3 linked regions of the Homo sapiens genome follow. The protein of the gene in region 3 purifies or fractionates together with the protein of the main gene of each other region. This does not show direct contact. Each region holds a gene or a part of one and is shown on either strand. Other genes may lie near its edges.

The links.
Region 1: the proteins of OPRM1 (region 3) and XPO7 purify together in Homo sapiens (affinity purification with mass spectrometry; 2 studies listed by BioGRID and IntAct, with this or other methods). This does not show direct contact.
Region 2: the proteins of OPRM1 (region 3) and XPO4 purify together in Homo sapiens (affinity purification with mass spectrometry; 2 studies listed by BioGRID and IntAct, with this or other methods). This does not show direct contact.

The regions. Positions count from the first base shown.
Region 1 is NC_000008.11:21,978,634-21,982,289, reverse strand, and holds part of XPO7 (exportin-7), read right to left. Parts: intron 2,207-3,656; coding exon 2,087-2,206; intron 560-2,086; coding exon 413-559; intron 1-412.
Region 2 is NC_000013.11:20,798,185-20,801,840, forward strand, and holds part of XPO4 (exportin-4), read right to left. Parts: intron 2,807-3,656; coding exon 2,647-2,806; intron 2,142-2,646; coding exon 1,972-2,141; intron 1,156-1,971; coding exon 981-1,155; intron 1-980. UniProt on the Homo sapiens protein: Mediates the nuclear export of proteins (cargos), such as EIF5A, SMAD3 and isoform M2 of PKM (PKM2). In the nucleus binds cooperatively to its cargo and to the GTPase Ran in its active GTP-bound form.
Region 3 is NC_000006.12:154,126,152-154,129,615, reverse strand, and holds part of OPRM1 (mu-type opioid receptor), read right to left. Parts: 3' UTR 1-3,464. UniProt on the Homo sapiens protein: Receptor for endogenous opioids such as beta-endorphin and endomorphin. Receptor for natural and synthetic opioids including morphine, heroin, DAMGO, fentanyl, etorphine, buprenorphin and methadone.

The sequences.
Region 1 (3,656 bases), on a different chromosome or scaffold from region 3:
CTCAAGAATCTATATTTTTTCATCAGTCCCCTAGATGACTGTGATACAAGCCATAAAATTTGAGACCCATTGTTCTATATTACATGACTAAGAAAGAGAGGGCATCAACTCTCTTTTTACTCTTCTGTCTAGCTCCCTGTTCCGACCTTGGCTTTTTTGGGGTGACTATGAGCTAATTCTCTCTGGGATGAATCTAAATATTATCCTAGTAATTCCCACATGTTCCTCTCCCCACACTACTTGCACTTGTGTAAATGTAAATCACAGGCCACAATAGTAACTACTCTGTAGGGCTATACTGGACTTATGGTTACCTTTGCCAAGAAAAAAAAATATATTCTTACATGGTTAAAACCAACAAGCAAGAGATTCCAGTATTTAGGAAGGAAGACACAAGTAATCAAAGACAAACCTGTAGGCTGGTCACTGTGAAGTTGGCTATCAATCGGATGACCTCAGGGTAGTTTTCCACCTTTACCAATTCTCCCAGTTGATAGTTACTCTTCAATCGGGCCAGTAGTCTGCAAAACTCATGGTAATTGTTTGGGTCTGATAAACTCTGGCAGTAGCAGAGGAGAAAAATAAAATGTAAAATGTGCCTTAACATACTTCAAGAATGATGTATACTTGAGATGGCATGGGGGAAGGGGTAGAATCTACTTTTTAACTTCTGGGCTGCAGGTCATGATTCAGAATGATACGTCTGCATAATGTTCAGAAACAATTTTTTAAAGTCACTTTGAAAAGGGACAGTCACATTTATTATCTCATATGTTCACAATAATAATCACATGAGATGACATTATTAGCCTCAATGGACAGAGTTTGAAACAGAAGCCCAGGAGGATCACACTGAGGCTGTAAAGCTCATTATAGCAGAAGTGGGCACGACCTAAGACGTGACTGACTTGTTTTCTTATTGTTACCAATCAAAGGAAATCTAATGAAATTTTCATTTCCACGTCTGTCAAACTGATCATTCAGCACAACTAACCGATAGTTAGCAAAGTTATACAAATGTTTCATATATTTATATCACTTACTGTAATTTATTCATATAGTAGTATTTATATGATATAGCAAATATTACAGCTATTTTAAAATCTATTCTACCAGTATATTTAATTGTAAGTTTCCTGATATGTCTTCTTCTGTTAGCATATGTGGGCTAAGACTTTGTTTTGTTCACCCGTGTATCCCTGGCACAGAGTAGGTATTCAATGTAATTTGTTGAATGAATAAATGAATTTTAAAAAGAGGGACAAAACTGAGTATATTTTGAAATAAACTGCTTTTTAATTTTCTTCTAGTATAGAGAAGTGATACTTTCAAAAAAATACTGAATCACTGGGACTTCAAAAGACAAAAAGGGCAATCGAGTTATGAAATTAACGTTTGAAAGAAGTATCTTCCTTCCCACCTAAAAGCAGCCCTATATACTTAGGTTACCGATAAACATTTTTTAAAAATGGTAAACAAAATCAAAAACCAAATGTTAGTTTTTTTTTTTTTTTTGAGACGGAGTCTTACTCTGTCGCCCAAGCTGGAGTGCAATGGCATGATCTCGGCTCACTGCAACTTCTGCCTCCCGGGTTCAAGCGATTCTCCTGCCTCAGCCTCCCGAGTAGCTGGGATTACAGGCACGTGCCACCATGGCCGGCTAATTTTTTTTGTAGTTTTAGTAGAGACAGGGTTTCACTATGTTGGCCAGGCTGGTCTTGAGCTCCTGACCTCAAGTGATCTGCCCACCTTGGCCTCCCAAACTGTTGGGATTACAGGCGTGAGCCTCTGTGCCCGGAGATGTTAGAGTCTTAACTTCTTGGGGGGAAAAATGACTAGCTTCTTCCTTATTTCCTTATAGCGAAGTGATTCTTTCCTGTAACTCCTACATTTCTGAAGCGGGAGGATATAAGCTCCTCTTTTGGGCAAATAATCTCAGAATTGGCCTACAAATAGAGATTCACTTCAGTCTTCCCTGAAGAACAGACTGAATTGTTTACTGGGCCTTGGGATGGATTTCCTTCTGACTCATAACAGCTGGCCATACACTAATCCTATACATATGTAAATTCTCAGATAAACTTACCTGTGGGTTTTCCAGTATTCGTTTAACACCATCAACAAGATGAGAGAGAAACTTGGCCCTCTCTGCATTGTTAAACAGGGATCTTCTGACTGAAGCGATCTGTACCAAGCAGGATAATACCTAAATGCAGGGCAGAACCCAAACACAACGATTAAAAAGACTGTACAGTTACTTTCACCAGAAACGTTCCACCTCCTACAATATCCTTCTTTAGGATATCTGAAGCAACATTATTTTAAAAAGAGAAAAGAAAAGAACATAGATCCAAGCAGACCACGGCAGCCCATTAAATTCAGTTTGGAAATTCCCTTAGGTACAAATTCCTTTGACCACTCCAATGGCATCTTTGTTCTTGCTGAGATACGTTATTTCACCCTTAAAAATATCGAGCAATTTATACTTTAAAGTTTTAGATTTAGTTTTCTTGGCTAATCTGAGTTTGACATGTAGATGTTATGTGCTTATGTCATTACATGCTATAAAGAAATAAGCGTATCGGCCGGGTGTGGTGGCTCACGCCTGTAATCCCAGCACTCTGGGAGGCTGAGGCAGGCAGATCACGAGGTCAGGAATTTGAGACCAGCCTGGCAAACATAGTGAAACCTCATCTCTACCAAAAATACAAAAAATTAGCTGGGCGTGGTGGCAGGCACGTGTAATCCCAGGTACTTGGGAGGCTGAGGGAGGAGAATCGCTTGAAGCTGGGAGGCGGAGGCTGCAGTGAGCCGAGATCGCGCCACTGCACTCCAGCCCGGGCAACAGTGAGAGACTCCGTCTCAAAAACAAAAAAAAACGAAAAAAAAAAAGAAAAAAAAAAGAAATAAGCATATCACATCTGGGCCCTAAAAAAGCCAGCTTTGGCCAGGTGTGGTGGCTCACGCCCGTAATCCCAGCACTTTGGGAGGCTGAAACAGGCAGATCACCTGAGGTCGGGAGTTTGAGACCAGCCTGACCAACATGGAGAAACCCTGTCTCTACTGAAAATATAAAATTAGCCGGGCGTGGTGGCTCATGCCTGTAATTCCAGCTACTCAGGAGGCTGAGGCAGGAGAATCGCTTGAACCCATGGGTAGTGCCATTCCACTCTAGCATGGGCAACAAGATCAAAACTCTGCCTCAAACAAACAAACAAAAAAACACAACCCAGCTTTATCCCTGAAGACATTTCCCTCTGTTCCCACTGTGTTAGATATTTACATTCTCTGTTTGCCCCCTCTAGATCTGCTTTCGACCCTTTTCCACCCTGCCCTATTCCCTAGGAGGCTGACCTCTGTTGAGGAGAGCAGCCAAGCTCCCTTGCCCTCTGGCTTCTAGTTGGCTTCAACCAATGGAAAGTACCAGCAGGAGATTAGAGGGCAGAGGGAACAGGGTACCCCTCTTCCGACCATCCAGCTGGCTATGCAGTGGCAGAGTTTCTCTAGTGATGGCTGTAGTTCTTGTTGTCCAGCCCTCCTCTAAGACACAGCTTCAACTCTCTCCAGGTTTCCTTCACTTGCCCTTTGAGGCTCCCCACTACTGCCAGCCCCAGGGGCATGCACCACCACCCCGTGCTGGTGTCCCTTAATTTTAC
Region 2 (3,656 bases), on a different chromosome or scaffold from region 3:
GATGAGGTCATACCGGAATAGGGTGGGCCCCTAGTTCAATATAACTGATATAGAAAGGGGAAGTGTGGATGCAGACACACACAGGGGGAGCATGTGAAGATGAAGGCAGGGATCAGGGTGATGCGTTTACAAATCAAGGAATGCCAAAGACTGCCAGCAAGCTACCAGAGGCTACAGATTTTCCCTCATAGCCTTCAGAAAGAACAAATCCCATGGACACCTTATAGCTTGGACTTCTAGCCTCCAGAAGTAGGAGAAAACAAATTTCTGTTGTGGTATTTTGTTAGAGCAGCCCTAGGAAATGAATATCATGGTTAATCTGCATCTTATTCAAGACAGGAGAATATTTCCCTGATCCCTAATGAAAATTTAATAAGCCAGTCCATGCTCTCGACTGAGTTGTGAAAAATGTGCCTAAAATGCAGAACACTTGATAATATTCAATGTCATCACACACAGGCAGGTACAGAAAAATTATAAGACAACATTTGTAAAATAAGAAGCTTCAACCCATTCATTAGGAGAAAAAATATCAGAAAAGCTATGACTGGGCCGGGCACAGTGGCTGGTCACATCTGTAATCCCAGCACTTTGGGAGGCCAAGGCGGGCAGATTGCTTGAGGCCAGGAGTTCGAGACCAGCCTGGCCAACATGGCAAAAGCCCGTCTCTACTAAAAAAAACAAAAATTAGCTGGGTATGGTGGCATGAGTCTGTAGTCCCAGCCACTTGGGAGGCTGAGGCAGGAGAATCGCTTGAACCTGGGAGGTAGAGGCTGCAATGAGCTGAGACTGCACCACTGTACTCCAGCCTGGGCAACAGAGTAAGACCCTATCTCAGAAAAAAAAAAAAAAGAAAGAAAGAAAGAAAGAAAAGCTATGACTGATACATTTATGTCTCCAGAGACTCTTACGGCAACGCATAGATAAAGGAACTACAGAGTTACACAAAAGGGTGCAATCAAAATAGACAGCACTGTTACCTCTGTCCAATACTGCTGTTTGGTTTCTGTGTCCATATGTGCAAAACCTCCTAAGACTAGAGCCTTCATCAATGTCCTCTGCACAGGACTTGACAAGAAATTAAGAGGTGGGCTTCGGCTTGCAAACTGCTTAGCTAAATTCCACCAGTTCTCACATTGAATTACTAAGTTTGCCCTACAGGTAGAAATAACAAAACATAAGATGTATTACTATGTATATACATACACACATACACATATACACACAAAGAAAACAAAAATAAAAAATAACTAGATTTAATTACTGTTAAAGCAAAGTACAGTAAACTTAGTATAGACTTTGAAGTCACAGGCTTACATTCAAATCCCACTAGTTGTCTGGTGATGTAAAATTTATTTAACCTCTATCAATCATCACTTCTCTATAATCTGCAAAATAGGAATAATAACAGTCTCCTGGGGCTGAGACTGATATAATGATTAAATGAGATACTACCTATGACATGCTTAGAAGAGTACATAGTAAATTATAAGAATTCAATAAACCAGACAATGACAATGGTAATAATAACAATGATACTCCTATACAGTAAGAACAACGAAAACATTTCTAGAATTGTTGTAGAAAGCACTAAAAATTTTACTTTCCAACATTAAATTTTAAATATCAGTATTTAATCTTTAAAATGGGGATGTCTAAAAATTCAAATGAGCATATTCCACATAAAAGTGTTTGCAACACGATAAATTACTAATGTGTTACTCATAGGGCTTTGATGCCAAATCCTGAAGGAGTCAATGTAATGCTCAATTATAAGATGGGAAAGCTCCATTTGCATTTGTAATAGTACTGTGACATAGTTTTTAAAACCCATTACTCCAAAAATGTAGGCTCTATCTGGAATTAGGACCGTGTAACCATTTGCCAGTTCAAAGGACTACACTAAGAAGTGAAAAAGAGTTTCTCACCCACACACATACACACACAGTCAGCCTCCAACAATGGGCTAACCTTTCTCTTCTTTCCACCAAAGTGACAAGGAGCTGCACAGTGTCATTTGCAAGGTCCTGCTCACTACTCCAGACTGAGAGGTTACTGATGACTTTTTGTAAGAGGTAGCCAATTATCCACTGAGAACCCTCTGTATCTGCTCCGAACGCTGTACTGAATGGCAGACTTATCTTAAGAGAGGAAACAAATTTTTTAAGGTAAGCAAGAAAGATCAACTCAAGAAAAAAAAAACAGAGAAAAATCGAACTGAAATTAGTATCTAATCTGAAGTAGTGCTTACTTCACATCAACTTTACACATGTACTCATTTCCACTGGTCAAAAAAAAAGACATCCTCAATCCACTCACATTTTCCAGTGTGATTTTCCCGTCAACTTCTATTATTCCCATAGTATTAAAAAATTAACATAGTATTAAACCAAATACAAAAAAGCATAATCTATTCCCAAATAATAATCTGTATCTTCAACAGCAGTTAAAATAAACGATATCAAGGGATGTGCTCAAAAACACATTAAAACAGCATTCCAGTCACATAATTCTCTTCCACACAGAAAATGTTAAACTGCTCTTAAACAGTTCTATTTTGATGAAAAACCACCAAGAAAAATGTTCCTGCTTCTATAACTGCTATCATCATAAATCCAAATGAAGTTTTAAGTTTTACATTCTGACCTGATCATACAGTTTTTCATCCACCAGGAGATAAGTCTTTGCCCAGCGTTTTAAAAACCAAACAATATCTTTGCCCATCTGGGGACTTAGTAGATGAGTGAGATCTGCTCTTATTGCTCGAGATTCAACTTCTGAAACTCTGAGAATGGCAGACAACAGCCTGTAGGTATAAAACAGAAGTCATTTATTCTTTTATTTATTTAGTTGCTGTCTAATCATATTTTTTTCCTTAAAAGTCCTTTTTTGTCTTTCAGTTCTCTGGATTTAGGTCAGGCTATACTTGAACATTTCATCTACAGAGTTTTAGACAACTGTCCCATATTATTTCTGATCTTTCACGAAGCAGGAGACAAGATAAGGAAAGGAAGAGTCAACACTAGAGATGTCCTTCTGCTGAAGTTGTAACCACATGTGTGAATATCAGCATTACTAGCTAAAGAGAATTTTCAGATTCAAAATTTTCAGATTTTCAGGAGAAATACATCAAATTAAATCTTCAGAGTACATGCCAAACTCTTTTAGCATGTACTACTTAGCATCACTACTTAAAACTACCCTGGTTAGTATAGTTTGTGTTTTTATATCATGGTCATGTTACAGTACAAGATCTGGGAATTATTTAGAAAGTTTTGAATATTGAGCCTTGTTTAAATCCAATATTTCCTAGTAAACTTGATTCTTCATGGTATTTTTAAATAAAACTCTTGCTAGAAAGATTACCTGTGTAAGTACACATATTGTCCTTTCCTACACTACATAATTCATATGGTCGTGTGGTGTCAATCACATAGCGTGACATGCAGACAAACAGAAATGTCTTTGTTGAGGAGGGCACATAATCAGAAGTGATATATATTTAACCTGACTTTAGCCAAAAGGCAAGGAAGCAAAGGAGGTAATGGAAAGACCCCATTACACACTAATGAATATCAGTGCTGAGAAAAGGATTCTAATCACTCAAATTCGGCTTATGCTCCTTTACTAGTGCTCTCAGGAAGCCTGAAATGATC
Region 3 (3,464 bases):
TAAAATACACATCTGAAATTATTATTGACATTTTAGTTTTTCCATTATGATTTTCTGTAACAGTGGGCACTAAAACTCAATTATGTGGAAGTCTCCAATCATATATGATGTTGACATTGAGAGGAGAGAAAGACCCTCTCACATTGTTTTATATTGTTTCATATTCAGTAAAAACAACAAGGAAGTAAAACCAAATACAGGCAGCTCAGCGCCAGGCCCGAAACCAGGCCTGGGCCCGCCTGGCCTAAACCCAGTAGTTAAAAATCAACTTATGATTTAGAAGCCGATGTTATTCATAGATTCCTTACATTGTATAGAAGAACATTGTTCTGTTCTCTATTGTATAGAAGAACTCCCTGTCCTGTTCTGTTCCTCCCAGACCACCGGTGCATGCAGCCCCTGTCACATACCCCTTGCTTGCTCAAATCAATCACGACCCTTTCATGTGAAATCTAGTGTTGTGAGCCCTTAAAAGGGACAGAAATTGTGTACTCAGGGAGCTTGGATTTTGAGACAGTAGCTGGTCGATGCTCCCAGCTGAATAAAGCCCTTCCTTCTACAACTCGGTGTCTGAGAGGTTTTGTCTGTGGCTCATCCTGCTACACCATGAGGTTCCTATACTTCAAAATATTAATAAAACACAGATATAAGTTAAAACTCCTATTCTCTTTTGACATAATAGAGCCAAATTGACTTATGTTTATAGATCCAATTTAACATTAATTTCCTGTTTTTTACAAAGATCTCTGTGCACTATGCAAAAACAGAGCTAGAAGAAACAATACTAGTTTTTAAATTTATGTCAGAAATAGCATAGCTATTACCTGGCAGTTCCCATTTATCAGACCTTCAGCTCTCCATGAGGTACAAGGTAGCCTTTTTCCTCAATGATGTCTTTATGTGCTCAGTCTCCAGCTGTCTCTGGGAAACCAGCTAGTTCGAGAACAACCAGTATGATTGCTTCAACTGTCTTCAGGATCAATGATAAAACAGTAACCAAATTGATCTCTCAATTTCCTACTGTGAGTTTCAAACTTATTATGAGAAAAAAAAGAATTAAAAGAGGTGCCCATATTTTAATATGCATGTGCACATTCATGGGGCAACATACATCCTGGCACAAGGATCCTCAACGGACTGTCCCAGTTCTTAGACTTCACTGGAATTTTGCTATGGTGAACATTGCTTCAAATAAATGGTCCTTCAGCTGTTATTAGGAATTGTACTAAATAATTTGGTGCATAGATTTGCTTATGATAAGATTTAGTTAGAAGGAAGGAGTTCATTATAAAAGTGAAAAAGGAATCCCGTAGTCAGAATTAACTCCACCTTCATTTTATTCTTTTAATAAGTGGGTAAAGTTTATTAAGAAAACACACAAATCACTGGGCAGATCTTCAGGTAAACACCAGTTTTTCTTATTGTTATTTTCCCCCAGCCCATTCAGAAGTTATATGATTGAATTACAGGTAGCAAGGGGATCCTGAGAACACTTGCCAGATTACTATTTGTAATACTGAATTTATAAATCCTGGAAATACTCTGTTATTTGAACCTAATTTATACAGATGCGGTAGCTTGCATGGAAAGTACTCAGCTGGGGAGTAGGCCTATTGGTTTTCTCTGGTCCCTTGAGAAATAAGGGCCATGAATTTCCATAAAGCAAATGAGTTTTGAGTTAATACAGCAGTGATCAGTTACAGCTTACCACTGAGACAGAGCACTGGGTGAGCCTGGGGGCAGACGGGAACAAATTGTATTACAGCCAAAGAGAATTACAGGAAGCCTTTGTTATTTTCCTGTTTTCTGAATGAACCCCTGCAGAGGCAGGAACAGGCATTAGGAATCAGGTTTGCCACCTGCAGAGATGCAGGAGAACAAGAATCAACCTATGGATTTCTTGTGCTAGTCAGGATATTGGAGATTGAATTCTGACTGGCTCTAAGTCAAAATGATGGAGAGAAGAGAGTTGTTATTTAGTGAAAGCGAGGGGTGGGGAGGGTTGTAGCCGGCCCACCACAATGTCAAGTCATGAGCACAGGTACATCTCAATTGGTGGTGTGGACCTCCTAATCTAGTCTGGTAGTTCTTATCCTGAGCGTGTATCTGTGTGATGACAAACATTTCAGGGACAAGTAAAACGTCTTAAACACAACAAACAAATAAACAAGCAACAGCAACAAAAAACCCAAACAAAACCTCCCCCTAAGCCCCTAAACCCTTGAAGAGTAGGCAAGTAGGGCATAGGTGTTTCTGAAAACACCTAACTGGTCATTTTATTCAAATTCACTTTATAAATGAGACCTCTTCTTTTGGAAGTCTCTGGCGGAATCCTTAGATGATAATGGCCACTGATTTCAAAGCATGACATCTCAGAACACAGCAAAGAAAAGCCACATGTATCACTATGGTAGGAAAAGTGTAGAATTTAATACTGCATCTCAAGGCTGTGTTGTGTGAAGGAAACTTTGGGCACATAGCATGGCATGTGGCACTTTTTTTTTTTTTTGAGACAATCTCATTCTGTTGCCCAGGCTGGAGTGCAATGCTGCGATCTTGGCTCACTGCAACTTCCGCCTCCCCAGTTCAAGCAATTCTCCTGCCTCAGCCTCCCGACTAGCTGGGATTACAGGCGTGCACCACCACGCCTTCCTAATTTTGTATTTTTAGTAGAGATGGGGTTTTACCATATTGGCCAGGATGGTCTTGATCTCCTGACCTTGTGTTCCGCCCGCCTCGGCCTCCCAAAGTGCTGGAATTACAGGCGTGAGCCACCGCGCCCAGCAGGCACTTTTTTATTTGGGGAAAGTAAGAAGTCTAATATGTCACCAGCAGGACCCACATGTTTACCTCTGCTTGGAGAACCTTTGAGGCATTACTGAAGGCTGTACACCTGTCACTGAGCCTTCCTAACACAGAGCAGTGAACAACCATGGAAGCCAAATCTACCCTGCAGATGAAAAGAGGCACCAGCTGATTCTAGGCTTGGTTGTTTCGGTGTCACAGCAGTGTAGGGTGGTGACATTGCCACCACAACCAGATACAGAATATGAAAAGCACTTCTGCAACCCAGAAACCCAGCTCCTGAGGGAACCAGGGAAGAAGAGCCTATGAGACATTTGAATTTTGCAAATATTGGGTAGTGTTGGGACACTTCTGCCCTTCTTGAAATGGGGGAATATAATTGTTGTTCTCCTTCCCAGAATTTCTTTGTCTTTGTCCTCTTGGACAGTGAAATCACAACCATTAGGTCACACAAATGTAGTCTCCTCTCCCTTCTCTCTGGTCTTGTTAATTAAAGCAGTTTTGCTGTGCTTAAATTAATGAAGCTCACTCATGTTGTTCAGTGAATATGGCTATGTTCAATTTTACCCAGACTCTTAGGAAAAGAGTTGTCTTCTTTATTTCCTCTTTTTTTTTTCTCTTCTCCTATATCTTCTGTGGTTTATACCACTTATCTCATT